Regions from separate parts of the Homo sapiens genome. Here region 2 is linked to region 1. The links come from fine-mapping of genetic effects on gene expression. A gene starts in region 1. The other region holds a variant in brackets. All regions are shown on one strand. Distances are from middle to middle.

Region 1 (8,321 bases):
GGAGCATATGAGCATGATATTATTTCAGAAACATCTTCACCTTTTTGGAATAACTGGTCTCTGTGGAAAAGCAATTCTCTACTCTGTCCAATATGGCTACATTTCGTTTTGAGATTAATATTTCCTGAACTGTTTTAACAAAAGATAATCATAGTAACCTAGAGAACATAATCAAAAACAGTAGAAAAAGAACCAAATGTGTAAGACTTAATTCTCCTAACACAAATATTTCAAGATGTGTGTTACACATATTTTTACAGATTTCACAGGCACATATGATGAGATGCCTCTCTAAAAACATGAACGATTATCTGAAAGAGATGTTCTGGATCTGTTATGAAAAAAACTGGTAATATGTAGAAAACTATAACCATGTATTTACTATTTTTTTCCTCAAGGATGTATCTGTAATGCTTATATAAACGTTTATTTTTTATAATATGAAAAACACTACGTAAAAACCGATTTCTCTACCTCAAATTTAAAAATAAAAAATATGTCTAGAGACAGTTAATGCCATATGCCAATAGCTCTTCTTGAATCCTCTGCCTTGCAATCAATAATTCTCCAACCATTAGTGAATATGCTCCATGACTCATCAGAAACAATATACAAAGTTAATGGGGATCATTCTTCCCCTCACCCTCCACACACGCACTGACACTAATGGAAGCTATGCCTCATCTAGTGGAAGACAGACTCAAGATGGCACCAAGCTGAGGCAACTCTTCTTGAGGCTCTATATACAAACTAGCTAACCTCCCCACGAAGAATCCACAACATCCATTTTACATTTTTTGGCATCCTTCGAGAAAATAATAGTAAGCATACTTTATATGGCTAGAAAAGAACCACATTTTTTTCAGCTTAACACTCACTGTGAATGGCAAAATGTACTTCAGTTATGAAAATATCTGAAAGGAATGTTTCCAGGACCTATGCCATTGTGCTTTGTTTACCAGTCAGATGCCTTCTCAAGAATGTGTTCAAATTATAAAGACAGTGTCTCCATGTATAGAAATTCTTCAGAGCCCATAATGTTACGTTAGAAACACATTTTCACCTTTGCTAATATTCAAAACAATACCCTCCTATCTGCAGGTAAAAATCTTTCATTCTTATGAATGCAGCAATCTTTTATTAACATTTGCTCAGGACTTTGGATATGGGTTTTTTTTTTTAACTTTCTAAAGAAAGTTCTAGCAAAAGAAAACACATATTAAGTATTTGAAGATAATTGCTATTTACTAAAATCTCTATTTTAAAATAATTTTAGTGACTCGTTTATGTTTGGTAACTTCAGGACAATGATAACTACAGTGTCTCTAAAATGTTCCTAAGTAACAATCATACTCTATTTTGGCCTTTGAGAGGTGTTAAGACTCATTCTCTAATTATAAGTTTTTCTCTATTATTACTACCTCACCATCAAATCTCTAAACTAAATAGCAGCTTTGAGGAAATAAAAATAGATGTTAGGTGGTGTGTTTTCTCAAATTTTGGTTACAATGGATAAGAAAGACGAGGTATTTCTATGTATAATAAAATAAGCCAATTTTATTGTTTTGACCAGCAAAATCTTTAAGCTTTCTCCCAGAATATTGTTTTCCTGCTTTATCCTAGAACAACACTGTCCAAAATAAATACGATGTTAGCCACATTTGTTATATTTTCTAGACACCATGAAAGAGAGAGAGAGAGAGAGAGAGAGAGAGAGAAAAGAAACAGGTGAAGTTAATCTAGTAAGATCTTCTATTAGAACCAATATATCAAAAATTATCATTAAAACATATCATAAATATAAAAATATTAATCAGATGTTTTACTTTCTTCCCCTCATATAAAGTTTTCAAAACCGGTAGTATTTTACACTTCTCAATCTGGACAAGACACATTTCAAGTGCTCAACAGCCACATGTGGCTACTGTACTGGACAGCACATTCTAGATTTCCAAACATATGAAGCTTTTTGGCCTAAAAAAACCATACACTTTAAAATCTTTCTATGTCACATTCTCTATGATCCATATGGTTGATGGGATTTTATTTTGGGCCAATCACTTCGTGAACCTATTTCACTTCTTTCCTCCACTCTTTTGACTCTCATATCTACTACCCACCCTAATGCCTTTGCATACAGAATTTTAAAAACCCAATCACCTATTCTTTTCAGCTTCTCCTAACCAAGACCTGAGATGTTCTCTAATCCGCACATCTATCACCAAGCAGAAAGCCAGAAGGTGCAGCAAGATTATTTATTCTCTGTTTCCATATAGATCTATCAAATACAGGCCTAATGTATGGCAACAGTGACAAATGCAAGGGCATTTTTTTCTTATAATGAAGATAAGGCATTTTATATAATAAAGTAACACACCCTTCCTCAATGAGAAATACAATTTTCAATGAGAAATATAATTTTACTCTTTTTTTTTCCCCCAGGAGAAATTTTGGGTTAGTCTGTTCTTGTTCTGGAACAAAACCCAGTGTTTCATTTCATAGGAATTCTGTGCCCAAAGGAAGAACAGAATGTTGGAATCAAAATTTAATGAATTCAACTTGGAGTCTAACTTTGCCTCAAATGTGGAAATGTAAACACAAGCAATAATATCTCAAACCATATAACACTTCAGTTTCTCTTTGGCATGACTGCGCAGAGTACCACACTTGATGTGTATCTACACACAAATTTGTTCACAGTTACATAAGGAAAAAAATTAAACTAGGCATATGTGAGGTTTTTCTGAGTCTCTTAGTAATAATGAAATCTGATTATTATGTCTTAAGTGACACTATAATTATAGATGAACAGGTTTTCTGTTGCTGACCCAACCTGTTCCTTAAAACACAAAAGGCAACTTTTGTAGTCTTCAGCAAGGAAACCCCCCATTAAACAAATAAGACTAAAAAAGCTATGCCTACATTTTCAAAGAAGACCTAACAATATAATAATAATAATAAAGTAACTCCCATGCAAATACACAAAACAGATAAAAACTAGAACATTAGGTTTTCTAAAGAAGTTTAGCCTTAGTTGTCACCAACTTTAAGAAAGCAAGATACAAGTGACAGCGATGTGCATTCTCAGGCTACAAAATAACTTATTCAGTGCCTCTATCTATAACTACATCTAAGACATTCTAAGTATTGAACTGCACATTCCTGGGATAAATTTTACAGTCGTTGAACTTTCATTTTCTCTCTGGGTGATAATATTTTATCTCAACAGCAAGGAGAAACACCAACACACTTAGGAATCCACACAGAGAGATAACTGTGGAGTGGCTCTCTTGTGCTGGTATAGAATACTTAGGTACTAAACACCCTCTGTGTATAAACAGACACTGTGTTCAAACCCAGGAGGAAGGGACATAGTGTCCACCGGTGTAGTATTTCAAAGCACGCTGCAGAGGGCTCGAAAGTCTAAAAGCATTAATTATGACTTCTCTCCTAGCGTATTAATTTAAGAAACTCCTCAGAGTATATGGCAGAGTTTGCCATCCATCTGCTATGACTTGTGCCTGTGCTGGTGGGCACACAAAGTGAAGTCAGCGGCAACAACCTTTCCGGCAGCTTCTTAACTTTAATCCTGGGGAGACATACTCCACGGAAATACACCCCAGAATCCCAACAGCCGCATACTCTCCCGGCCCCAGAGAGCCTTAAGAATACAATATTACTCTGGCAGCAACACCCCTGTAGTTGTAAAGTGCTGTGCGAGGGGAAGGCATAAGCGCCACCATATACCTGCTCGTGTTACAGGCTCTGGAATCAAAGTATTCTCACATGACACATTACTACCAATAACAGATTCCGGCTCCGTTTAAAAAAAAAAAAAAAAGTTGGGGGGTGGCTACATATTTGTCCTGCTTTTGTCTAAAAACCAGAACCCAAGTACTAACTACTTTTCATTCTTTTCAACCTTTCATGAAAGCAATTCAACCAACTGCGGCTCCACCCAAAGAGCTTCTATACTTACTTTTCTTACAGTTTTTGAGTGACGCACTACAAAACGATGAAAAAAAAAAGAAGAAGAAGAAAAGGAGGAGGCAGCCCTCTCCTACAGGGCGTCTTCCGCCCTGTAAACTTGGCAAAAGGCAAACTGGCCTGAAATACAGCACTCTCCATATAAGGCAGCCCAGCTAAACATGTCATGCGTAATTTATGGGTAGCAAGCAGAGAATTAACCTTTGCGTGCACATATTTGGCCCAGATGAAAACCGGGCGGGATGGCAGCCCCGGGGCCAGGGATGCGGGAGCCGCCGGGAAGACCCGCGCGCCGCTCGACTCAGAGGGACTCACACCTTCCCCCGACAAAGGTCATTAAGTTGTGAGTACACTTGCACGCACCTGTTTCTCTTCTCGCCCCCCTGTTTCTCCCTGGGTCCCGCTGGGCTGCCAAGCCGTGCGCGGGCTGTGCCGTGACAGCGTCCGCAGAGCCCGCGGCAGGGAAGGGCGCAGGAGCGGCTGCGGCTCACCCTCCCGCCTTCCCCCGGGCAGGAGGTGCTGAGGGACGCGAAACCAACTACCGCGAGCGGCCCGCCCCTGCCCGGGAGAACCGCGGCCGGCGAGCACCTCCTCGCACTTCCTCCTTCAGCCACGGGCAGACCCGCCGGAGTCCGAACAATGAAGCGGCGCGGGGAAACTGTGAAAATGGAAACTTACCTCTCACATTTTTTTTTCAGAGGCGGCCCCACTGTCGACCAAGTGCCCAAGGCATTGTGGGAGTCATGATTCCAAGATGCCCGCGACGGAAAATGGAACTTGTCAGCTCCTTGTCATGGGAGCATTGTGGGCGCCACAACTCATTCAGCTGCAGTGAAAAGACTGTTGCATGTCGCTGTGCAGCCTCTTATCGCCGAGGTCTGGCTTCCGCTGCTGCTGCGCGGCCCCTCCCCCGCCCGCCCAGCCCCACCAGGAAGCCCAGGGCGGACTCGTCGAGCTCCTAATGCACGCGGCGGCGAGAAAAACGCTCTTCAACTTTCCGCCGGCGCCCTCCCGCGCTTCCCCGGGCCACAGGGTCGCCTGTCAACCGGACAGAGCCCGCAAGAGCGGGTCATGGGCGGTCGCCCAGCGGCGCCGAGAGCAGGAGGAAGCCGGAGCCCGCGCGGGCGCCGTGGATCCCCTCGGCCTCCCGTTGGTATCTTCCATCTCATGCGTTCAGCATTGTAACCTCGCGGCGGGCGTGCAGACCGGACGCCCTCCCGCTTCTTCTACCGACTGCTAGGCACACCAGTGGGTTCATTTTGAAAGAGGCCCTTGCACCGGGCTTTGCAAGGAAGCCGGCAAGGTTAGATTGAAGGTTAGAAGCCAATTAGACTAGAATCCTGCGATCTGGTGAGACTGCCGCCTTAAAATGCACCAAACAGTTTTTGAACCTGGAGGGCTAACAGGCGGGAAAAACATCTGCAAGACTGCCACCGTGTATTTTTCTCAAGTAACAGGCTATCCACAGTTTTGGAATTCCTTAGTGAAACTGTCACACAGGCACAAACACATGTCAGCTTTCCTTCTAGTTTGTAAATAATATTTGTAATTTACAGGCCACTGTATTCCCAACTTTGCACCATGTGATTTAGAGAAAGCAAAGCTCCCTCTTTAAAAATAATATGTTACTTCTGAAATACCGGGATATTCCACGGCAAGTAAGCCATATTGTCGCCAGAGCAAATAAACCGCAGCCCCATATCATAATTCACTGGGTGCTATAAGATGTAACTTGGCTTTGCTTTGAATGGAAAGAATCCTGAACGTCTGTGATGTGATGAAGTTTTGGAGACTGGGGGCAGGATTTCCTTTGAATGTAAGGAATTCGGATAACTTGTTCAAGGATGATTCTAGTGAAAAACGTTTGTCCCATGTTTGTTGGGACAAAAATGCTGGATATGGTACAACATTCTTCCTGCAGGTTCGGTTTTGTTGAAGAGAGTGAGGCCAGCTCGAGGTGAAGGAAAAACATCAGAAAGGTGCTAAAGTGCAGAAATATCTTCCAGAGGCACTAATAGCCGACTTTAGTTCTTGACCTTTAGCTAGATCCACAAAGCACTGAGTTAAAATTGTACACTGATCCCTTCCAGAACAAATTAATTAATTAAATGGTGCCTCTTCCCAGCGTTAATCGTTTAAAAGGACTCAAGTACCCACACAGTTTAAGCAAACTAAAAGAACACTGACACTTTCTCAGAGAACAGGGATGGGAACTTTCTATCTGCCCATTAGTATCTACCCCAAGCTACGAAGACTTCCATTCCTCTTATTAAGCATTCAGCAACTACATTTAGTGCCTACTATGCCAGTGATGCAAGAATGGATAAGACAGTCCCTACACTCAAGGATAACGCCTCTAGTAGGTGAGAGACAAACCGATTAATTCTGCATAAGGGATAAGTGCTGTATGTGGGAAGCAATCCAATGAGGGCTCTGAGGATGGCAAAGGAAGGGTTCCTGGAGGATTTACATTTAACTGGTGCCTTGAAAGGTGTGTAGAAGTTGGCAAGATCAAAAGGGAGTAGAGTCCAGGTGGAGAAGAGAAAAGAGCAGGGCAGGCTGGATGGCATGGCTCACACCTGTAATCCCAGCACTTTGGGAGGCCATGGAGGGAGGATTGAGGCCAGGAGTTTGAGACCAGCCTGGGTGACATTAAAAGACCCTGTCTCAAAGAAAACGAAAGGAGCAGGGTATATACAAGGGGTCTGCCAGCCTTCTCAGCCTTTCTGTGAGAAGCGAGGGTAGGGTAGTACAGGAGAGTGGCAGGAGATGACACTAAAAGTAGGTCTGTGTTGATCTAACGAGTCTCAACTTTACTGCCAAAACTAATGAACTAGGAAAGTTTAGGCAGCAAGGGCCAGAGATGGAGTCTGGACTTGTATTGCAGAAAGTTCCTGTGACGGCAGCTTGGAGGGTGAATGAGAGTGTGGGATGGAGGGGTGAATGGGTGTGGACAGACTGGAAAAATGACTCATGCAGGGAATGAGGAAGGGAGGAGCCTTGGGAGACTCTCAAATCCCTGGCTTAGCCTACTGAATTGCTTGCTACTTGCCTTTTTATGTCTTCATTTTGCCTCCCATTGTCTGTGATATTAAAGGCCTAACTTCTTAGTAGAGCAAACTTTGCATCTGCTAGCAGGTTGGTGCCCTAGCTAGCTTCCATGCCCCTCTGCTTAGAATGCCTGCGAACCACTAAGGACTAATCCTAGTGGTAGAAATTTATTTTCAATTGTTCTCAAACCCTTGTAGAATTCCAAGTTAGAACTGTAGTGTTCTTTTTTCATGTGGGTTAGAAAATTTGCTGTTTGGAGCAACATGGTGAAACACAGGACTTTTGAACCTGCTTATGGTGCAAAAGGGGAAATTATATTTCTACTTCAACACTGGAGGAGGGGGGACTTCTGGGAGCAAAAGAGAAATGGAAACTGAGATGAGACATGTTTTTTACTCCATGACAGAATACAAAGAAATACAAGGATGATCCTTTAATGTTAGAAACAGTAGAATAACCATCCTGGTAAATAAAAAAGGAGAAAAAATGTTATTTTACATTAGATACAGAAAAACAGAATGGCTAAGAAAACTCACAAAGCAATGGTCAATCTATAACTCGAGTCCAAATAAATTGTGATATAACACTAAATTACCACTGATTTGGCCTAATTGACTATCACTGGATAACATTATAACATGAATGATAATATTTAAAATTTTAAAGCACTGTAACAAACACCAGATCATGTTAAAACTATTCAATCATGTTGTCAGCTTTCAACTGCCAGTAGCATCCTAACCACATTTCAAACTATGGAAATTACTAAAAAATCATTATTGTAATAAAAAGTTAATAGTTCCTCATTTAGAATACCATTGATATTCCCTCAGTGCCAGGAGAACATTATGGTTTCTCCTATTTCTGTGAAGTGTATAGTCTACAGGTTCATAAGTGAGTATATCCATGAGTATAAAAAGAAGGTCATTTATGGGTGGAGAGGGAAATTATAGAAAACAATTTCAGATGAAATAAACTACATTTTCAGATAAAGGAAAGAGTGTTCACTGCAGGTTCCTGAAATATTTCAGTCCATTCAAGTTTTAATTATACCAATGAATCTCAATAAAAATACAGTTAAGGAATATGGTTTTTATAGATAATGTCAGCTCCTTGTTTACCAATAATAAAGATAAAGATAATGGCAGCATTTATCTTTTTCAGTCCAATGGGGATATTTAAGGTACCTATGTAAGTGTGTGAGTGCCTGTGTGAATTGTGACTTACTTCTTCTGCATACCACATTCATAGCTCAATAAGCTCTCACTGCCTCTGCAATATAA
Region 2 (8,310 bases), 200 kb before region 1:
TGAATATTTACTAAACTAGAAATCTCTGAAAAGCCAATTAAAGTCTCCTATTATCTTACCACTAAAATTACTTTCCTATGTGATTAACTCATTTTTGAAAAAATGCTTTATAAATATATAACACTGTATGATACTTTACTTATTTCCTAAGTATTGAAACATTTCCTAAGTATTGAGACCAGGATTTTGCCATTATAAAAATGCTGCAATGAACATGTTTATTCAAAAATATTTTTTCAATATTCAAGTTAATTTTTAAGGATAAAGTGAGTTAGACAGTAAGTAGGGGAGTTGTATCATTGTATTCCAGAAGAGAATGTAGTTTTTATTTAATTTTATTCTAAATTATTTTGTGGTATAAAGAGATTCGGACTAGTGAGGGAGGAGGGAAATACTAGATGAGTGTCTATACAGATGGAATTACATACTCTACATATTTTGTTTTAGTCATTACACTGTAAGGTTCTTGCCATTGATCCTTGTATCTCAGAGCCTAGCATCCTGTACAGTATATAACCAGATTCTAATATGTTTAAGTTGAAATAGTACTAATTTAAGCATTCAAAATAAACCTATGATGAAACATGTTATGGAAATATACTAGTGTCACTGAAATGTTACTAGAAGTATTATTTTGATAAATACAATAAAAATATTTAAAATACATTATTTAATGGTATCATTTTCATAATGCATTCATTCTATTACTTGATCTTGAACACAGTTAAAATATTTGAAGGGGGATTCAAAGAGTTAAGCTTAGATATGCCTAAATGGTTACTTTCATATTGGGTCTAAATGGGCTAGGTGTTGTCTGTGACCATATCAAATTGAAGTAAGAACTATACAAAATTTTCAGATTGACCATATCAAATTGAAATAAGAATTATACAAAATTTTCAGAGTTAATAAAAATGTACTTGATTCTGTTTTTGAAATAGTATAAATGAAGTAACAGCAGGTCTTGTGGTGGTGGTAAATTACAAGATAGTTTCATTGCTAAACATGAAAGATAAAATTACAGATAATATAAATGAGAGAGTGTGTGTACCTGGCTACTTTGAAAGGGATGTGTAATCGAAGAATCAGGATAAAAAGTTGAAGAATAAGTGGAGTGATTTTTAAAATTGATAAAATAGCAATCATAGTTAACATGTATCAATTACTTGCTATAAACCAAGCAACTTTCTAAGCTCTTTTTATATATTAACCCAGTTCTTTCCTCCATAGTCATTAAACCAGAATGTGTGCAGGTAGGAACCAGTTATCTGGGGGATCTTTTAAAAGTATCGATACTTTTATTGAGTTTTATTTTAAAAGTATCGAAACCCCATCTCTACTAAAAATACAAAAAATTAGCCGGGCGTGGTGGCAGGCGCCTGTAGTCCCAGCTACTCGGGAGGCTGAGGCGGGAGAATGGCGTGAACCTGGGAGGCGGAACTTGGAGTGAGCCAAGATCGCGCCACTGCACTCCAGCCGGGGCCACAGAGCAAGACTGTCTCAAAAAAAAAAAAAAAAAAAAAAAAAAAAAAAATCCCCCCGACAATTCCAGTTTGCAGCAAAGTCTGGAAACCACTCAATAATGGTGCAGTATTTATATTCTCGTACTTATTTTATTAAAGTGGAAACTGAGTCAGAGAAGTAATTTGCCAAGGTCAGGGAGCTGCGACGTGATTCCAGGTGTTCTGATTTTTGAGCCGTTCCTCGACCACTGCAATGTCTCCCCAGTGCTTTAGTGACTACTTCCTGTATGAAAGCATTCATACAGGCATTCAAAAGTATGTCTCAGTGAAATAATAGATTGCTACATCACTGACCTTTAGTATCATTTCAAAGTTTAAATTCCATGAGTACCAAGGGTATGTGATGAAGTAATAGCTCTAGCAAACGATTTTGTTCTCCAAATGAAAAACGAATGACTTCTAACAGAGTCCCATTCTGTGAGCTGAGGACTCCTAGTGGGCGTTGTAATAATAACTCTTCTGAAAATAATTTTTCAGATGCATGTATATGCTGTTGTGATTAACAAAATACAGTTTCATTTAAAGTATTGCAAAAGTTACAAGGACTTTTAGTTATGCATTTTTTCAATGAAAAGATTTCCAAAATATCACTAACTGGAAAGAGCCAGATGTCTTGATATTACTCAAAAAAGGCTGTGAACTCCTGCTTTAGACAATCATCTTCAGGGCAGCCATTCTTTTTGACAAGTGGCACCCAGAACAGTTGGACCTACTGAAAATAACAGAATTGTCCTTTAGAACTCAACCAGTAACAGAACTGTATTGATTATGAATAATGCACCTATTTTTATCACAATAAATTTTAGAAAAAAAGGCATCAACCTACAAATGAGCATTTGTAACTCTTGACCAAATACCAAGTGGCAGTCAGCATAAAGTAGAACTAAATGATACAATGTGCACGTTCTTCATGTTGAAACTTTGGCATTCACTGGCTATCTGTAGAAACTGCAAAGCTTATATGTGATGCCAGGCCCCACTTCAACAAAGTTTTTAACCCACCGTTTAAGACATTCACACACACACACACACACACACCCCTCAGGAGTAATATCATGGCCTGCCTCATAGATCATATGCATAATTTCTTTCATCCCTCTGAATACAGTGCCATCACCTCTCTTGGATTGCCTGATTTCCAGTCCTAATCAGCTGACGCAGCAGTCAGGCAAATAAGATTTCTTTAATAAAAGATAGATAGTGATCTATAATGTATAATAATTTTTTTCTTACCGTTTTTTGCCCTGACACTTAAAACTATTTCAATCAGCGCTTAAAGTGTCAGACAGGGGAAGGCAAGAATTTCAGAAAACATTGGGCACAGGAGGGCAATATATGCTGATTTAGATTCTCCCTCTCAGTGTCAAAGGATAATTAGTGAGAAAGACAACAAATGCCTTCCTCGCAGTTGCAATCAGTTAAAACCAGGTAACAAATTTATACATCAATATGTTTGTAAAGATAGATACATATGCATGAATACATGAAACACGCAAAAATAATTTAGTATTCAATCTCAGATACACGAATATACTTAAGAAAGAGAAGTTTTATTAGGGCAATTTCACTTTATTTTTCCATACAGCAAAGTCAACTACTGCAGTAATAATAAAATAAGCATAAAACAAATTGCAGCCCAAGACAAAATACATAATTTTAAGCAACTACAAGCAGAAAGTAAGTTGTGATTACATAATAGTAAAACCAAGCACATTTGTCCTTTCAGCAGATGAAAGTGGTAGGGTTGCTGATAAGTGCAACATTTTTAACCAGCTGGAGTGAAGGCTGGATACACTAATTCTTTTAAACAAGTGCCCATTATCACATTTTGCATTTTTGAGTGCTTCTGAGTTGAAAATTAAAACCATGAAATTTGAACTGCGTTTTATTTTTCACCTGCTGAAAGAACAGGATCCTACAGCAATTAAAAAACAATCACATAACAACTATAGCTACAGTGTGCTGTTTGGTTTGCCTGTTTATGATTTAAATTTTGTGAAAGTCAATACTTGTTTTGAAGATTTTTTTGTGAACAATAAACCACTGAAATTGGCAGAAACTGATCTGAATAATATATGTTCTTAGTATAGTTCTTTCTCTCTTTTTTTGTTGAAGTTTTAAACATGCAGTAGTTTTGAAAAATGTAAGGAATATCTGATCCATGATTTCACCTTAATGGTAGAAGTACCTGCTATTTTTGGTAATGATCTTCAGGCAGATTTGGCCCCATGGAGTTTTTGTCAGTCATGAGGGTTTGAAAGGATGGCGTATCTTTCCAGCTGAAAAAATCCTGGCAAACTACAAGCTGTCCACAAGAAAGCAAAGCAACATGTTTGAAGGGGTATGGAGTGCTAACTCTGTGCCACTTTTGCAAGCAATTTTGCTCAGTCTGTCATTGTATTAGCCTTAACAAAACTCCTTGTAATTATAGACGTTTTTATTCAAAATAAGATCTTACTATTATACAGGTTTCTCTCTTTTGACTATATACAGAAGTGCAAAAAGTCAACCTTCTCCCTAGAC[G/A]TTCCAACATGCTAAATTGCAGCATAATCAACCCTCAAGAGTTTGCACACACGCTATAATTTTCATTACGTAAACTTTGAGTATTTGGATTATCAACAAAAAGTCCCTTGTTCTATTTATTGATTATGCAGCTTATTTATAACAAGGCCTGATACTCAGGGATTTCAAAAATATTAAACAATATTTTAACATTTGAAATGGATACAGTAGAAAATAAATTTTATTCTAATATCTAGGATCTAGATCTTCTTATAATAACTAATTACAAACAAAATAAATCATCAAAATATTACTCAATTGTCTGCCAGGATTGTTGCGATAGCAACAACTTAACTTCTTACTTAGCAATGATTATATATTTATAAGATATCCATATAAAAGATCTTTGTTCTTTTAATGAAAACTAGACAAGAACTAACAATGACTGACATTCTTACACTGTAATATTAAATCAGTAAAATATAAATCATTTAGTTAACAATACGAATATTCATGTGACACTACATGTAATTCAAAACTGAGTATGTTATGAAGGAAAAACTACTTTTTTTTGTATTTTGAAAAATTCATTGGTAAAATCTAATAAAACAAGTCTATAAACTGAAATGGTATTCAATTGTTAATAGAAAATGAAAATCTAATAAATGTAGGAAATGAAAAACTACATTTTAACAAGAAAAATAAGTAATATTCTATAATGTAACTAACTACAATAACATGTGAAGTCACCATTACTTTCTTAACACGATTGAAATTACATTGGTATGGGTTCCAACCCGTAATGTAATAATCTAAGGCTTTAATAGATGTACAGTACAATCAGTAAAATCAACACATCAGTCTTATATTAGAAAGCATCTCTCTCAAGCATAAAAACTTGCAGTAAACTTGGAAGTATGGAAAGTTCTATAACTGAACTTTCACTTCTCCCATTCCATACTATAACTACCAGTGACCTGGCCCCTACTTCAGCAATTTTTAGAACTGCTGAACAGAGCAAAAATATCCTTTACTAGCTGCAACATCCAAACCTCAAAAAAAGGAATTCCTTTGGATGATTCCATTCTTAAAAACTGAATGCACATCTATTTTTTTTTTAATTTTGTAAAAGGCTTTCTAAGGCTATAAGCAGTTAATCTGAACAAAACAAAACAAAACAAAAATCACATATAAAATTCACCCATGTACTTAACCCACCCAATTACTAGGTTAATTAAACATTTCCCATTTTCATATTTTGGTTTATCATGCATCTGATGACAGTGCTGCTTTCTTCTTTGTTTAGAGTCACTATTTTGAATGTGACTGTGATGAAGCATTTAAGCAAACGTGAAACCATTTTTGCAAAGCATTTATAGTCTTTTGACTTTTGACAGAGGCTATAAATAGAAGCAAAATAATTTCCTCATTTTTTTGTTACTGTGTCTCAGAAATGGCAATCCCTTTTGAATAACATGTTATACAGTATAGTATGCATAAATATTACACTACAATGCATTAAAATAATTTTATATATATCTATTATATATATATCTCCAGTATGTGTGAGTTTATCTGTATTGAGAGAGTTTGTGTTGTGCTGTCTATTGTTACTGTAAAGTTAAATTGGCCATTTCTGAGACAGCTTTGGTTTCAAAAAAAAAAAAAAAGAATGGTGCCCTTTGACTGATTAGTACTAGCAAATATGCAACAAAATGTGGCTCTGAAAACAATAACACTGAAGAAATAATACTCTAATTTGATGTACAGTCTATGGCACTTCATGAGAATCCTTAACAACATGGTACTTAAAGCCATGATGTGCTTTAAAATATACACAGTTGTGGTTTTGCTTGGCACATTCATCTCTGTCAGATCCCTCCCTCACCACGTCTTACAATCTATTACATTAAAAATATTACTCTTAAACAAAAATGACTGTGCATGCACGCTCTCATCTATAATGGCAATTTTAAATACAAGGTGCACCTTTGTTATTTGTAAACCTTGAAAGAAATAAACTTATTTTTAAAAAATTATATCTTGGTCTACAGACGTACCAATACATAATAGAATCATGGTTACACCATAGTCTGTCTTTTCAAGATGGCATGAATATATAGGAAACTAACTAGGTATGCATCTTTGAATGCATAACTCTGTGCTAGAAAAGAAAGACAATGTTGTTCTTTTAGACAGGAATATCACCTCAGCACAAATATCAATTAAATGTACAAAGTGTATAGGCAACAGTGTGCAGTGGATTTCCGGAAAATGTTGTCTTTTCTTCTGGTTAACATGCAATATGTGGATGTCTTGTGGCTGAGGAACTTTTGTGTGTGTTGCTTGACGATATATACAATATGGCTAATGACCTCGTCCTTTACTCTAACCAAGCACACTGTCCTTTCCTCTTTAGCATGATCTACAAGGGAAAAAGAGATAAGCTTTGTTAGAACAGGTAATATCTAAAAGCAGTTTCTAATATACATTTAATATGAAAATTTTCTTTTTGATTAACCAGTATATTTACATTATATCTTCATATAAAAACAAAAACCATTTTACAAGAGTAGACAGATCAAAATTTGTCTATCATCTCTACACGAATGAAATAACACGTACAATTTAATAAAACTGTAGAATGTGCTCCAAAATTTACCAATCCTAAACTAAAAGTATAAAATACATTTGCAGAATCAGGGGGCCTAATATACAGAGCTCTTTTTTAGCACAATTGTTGTAGGGCAAAATTTAAACTTCTTTTCTGAAGTTTAATAAGGTTTCAAGAGTAAAGGTCTGGTCTACAAAATTAAAATTCATGTAATATGTTCTATTAAACAAGATTTATTCTTTTTGGGTGCTTGATTAGCATAATGCATGTTTGAAAAAAAAAGAATGATACTTTAAGTGATGGCTTTGGGTAATTCAGTTTGTTGAACTTTTTTCACCTAAAACTAAGAAAATAAAAATCATTCTTTTTGAATTACAGAATTATTACTCATGAATTAAGCTGTAATAGACATTACAATGTACTTGTGGATTAACAGTTCCAGTTTTTACATGAAATTTGTTCTCAGCAGCGAATATTTACATATATTAAAAGTATGCTTCACAATACAACCTTGAAAATGAAAGAAATCATAATCTAGTGACTCAAAAACCAGTTTAAATGTTGCAACTCCTCATGAAGATGAGCAATCATTTGTTAAATGAACAGAACATTAAAAGCTTAGCTTCAATACAGACAAAACTACTGGTTTGCTAATTATTTTTAGAAATTTTTTTCAACCTGGATTATTGCTAAGAAACAGAATTTAGTTAAATATATACATACCAAACACACCTAATTGACTATAAGAGCTTGAAACAGATTTTTCTGGCATGTCAAAAAAACCTCTTCTTCTAAACCTACAACACTGCAAAGTAATGCCTCTTCTTCTACAAATGTGGCTATTGTTCAGAATCTGAACCTTTTTATCAGAACTGCTTTGAGAAAACTTATGAAATAGACAAAAATCAATTTTAATAATTCACGATTGCAGCATATCTTTGGCAGTACTTCTCCAGTTGAGCCTCTCATTTCTTTCTTAAATGGCTATTGAATTCTGCCTGTTCTCCTGCATGGGCTTTGACTTTGTCCAGCTTTGCTACAGATTAACATCACAAGGGTTTCTGAGTTGGTTCTCAGCCATCATCGTTTCCTGACTTGGCACACTGTCCTTCTTTTACAAGGCCTTTACACCTCCATTCTCTTTAGAACAACACCTTCATTGTCCACATTCATTTGTTTACGGATCCTGTTGGGAACAGCTGCTCCTTCATCTTTGCTCTAAGAGAAATTTCTTCAAACCTCTCTTATTTTACTATATTATCCTGAAATTCCTTACATCTTTATCTTATTATCTATTTACCTTTATCTCCTTGCCATGGTAACTAACACAAAGTAGCACCAAAAACTCATTTGTAAATATGTTAATAAATAAATAAAGGAAGCAACAAAGAATGGTCACCCATCTTAACCAATTTCAGTTTTAAATGTAATGTCTCTTTCTAAATATAAAAATAAATAACAAGCATCTGAGCACATGTTATAACTTGAATGCATGCATACTGGACAAAACATATTCCTATGGATGAAAAATGGACACCTTTTTAAGTATTTAAGACAGTGGTTTTTTTTTTTGTTTTTTTTTTTATACTTTAAGTTTTAGGGTACATGTGCACATTGTGCAGGTTAGTTACATATGTATACATGTGCCATGCTGGTGCGCTGCACCCACTA

Direction of the effects. Positions count from the first base shown, and alleles are read on the strand shown. Sizes are in standard deviations (SD) of each study's normalised expression.
For the expression in CD8 T cells of the gene that starts at base 4,829 in region 1, allele A in region 2 goes with a lower level than allele G (large effect, 0.82 SD a copy in Kasela 2017).

Evidence for each region.
Region 2: its variant is fine-mapped to the expression of MBNL1 in CD8 T cells (Kasela 2017, PIP 0.95). The same link has a PIP of 0.9 or more in B cells, CD4 T cells, NK cells, ileum, monocytes and monocytes after LPS.

What each region holds. Positions count from the first base shown.
Region 1 is chr3:152,265,437-152,273,757 of GRCh38, reverse strand. It overlaps MBNL1 (muscleblind like splicing regulator 1), which reads right to left and starts at 4,829. Exons shown (of 10, transcript NM_021038.5): 1 at 4,666-4,829. MBNL1-AS1 (MBNL1 antisense RNA 1) reads left to right here and starts at 4,132. Exons shown (of 2, transcript NR_027038.1): 1 at 4,132-4,330; 2 at 4,686-8,321. RefSeq lists silencers at 4,382-4,491, 4,892-4,941, 4,992-5,051 and enhancers at 3,942-4,783, 5,242-5,341, 4,784-5,626.
Region 2 is chr3:152,460,525-152,468,834 of GRCh38, reverse strand. It overlaps MBNL1 (muscleblind like splicing regulator 1), which reads right to left. Exons shown (of 10, transcript NM_021038.5): 10 at 3,055-6,450. Among named protein-coding and RNA genes, the nearest start is that of MBNL1-AS1, 200 kb to the right of the region's middle. The variant G/A (reference allele first, on the strand shown) is at 4,047.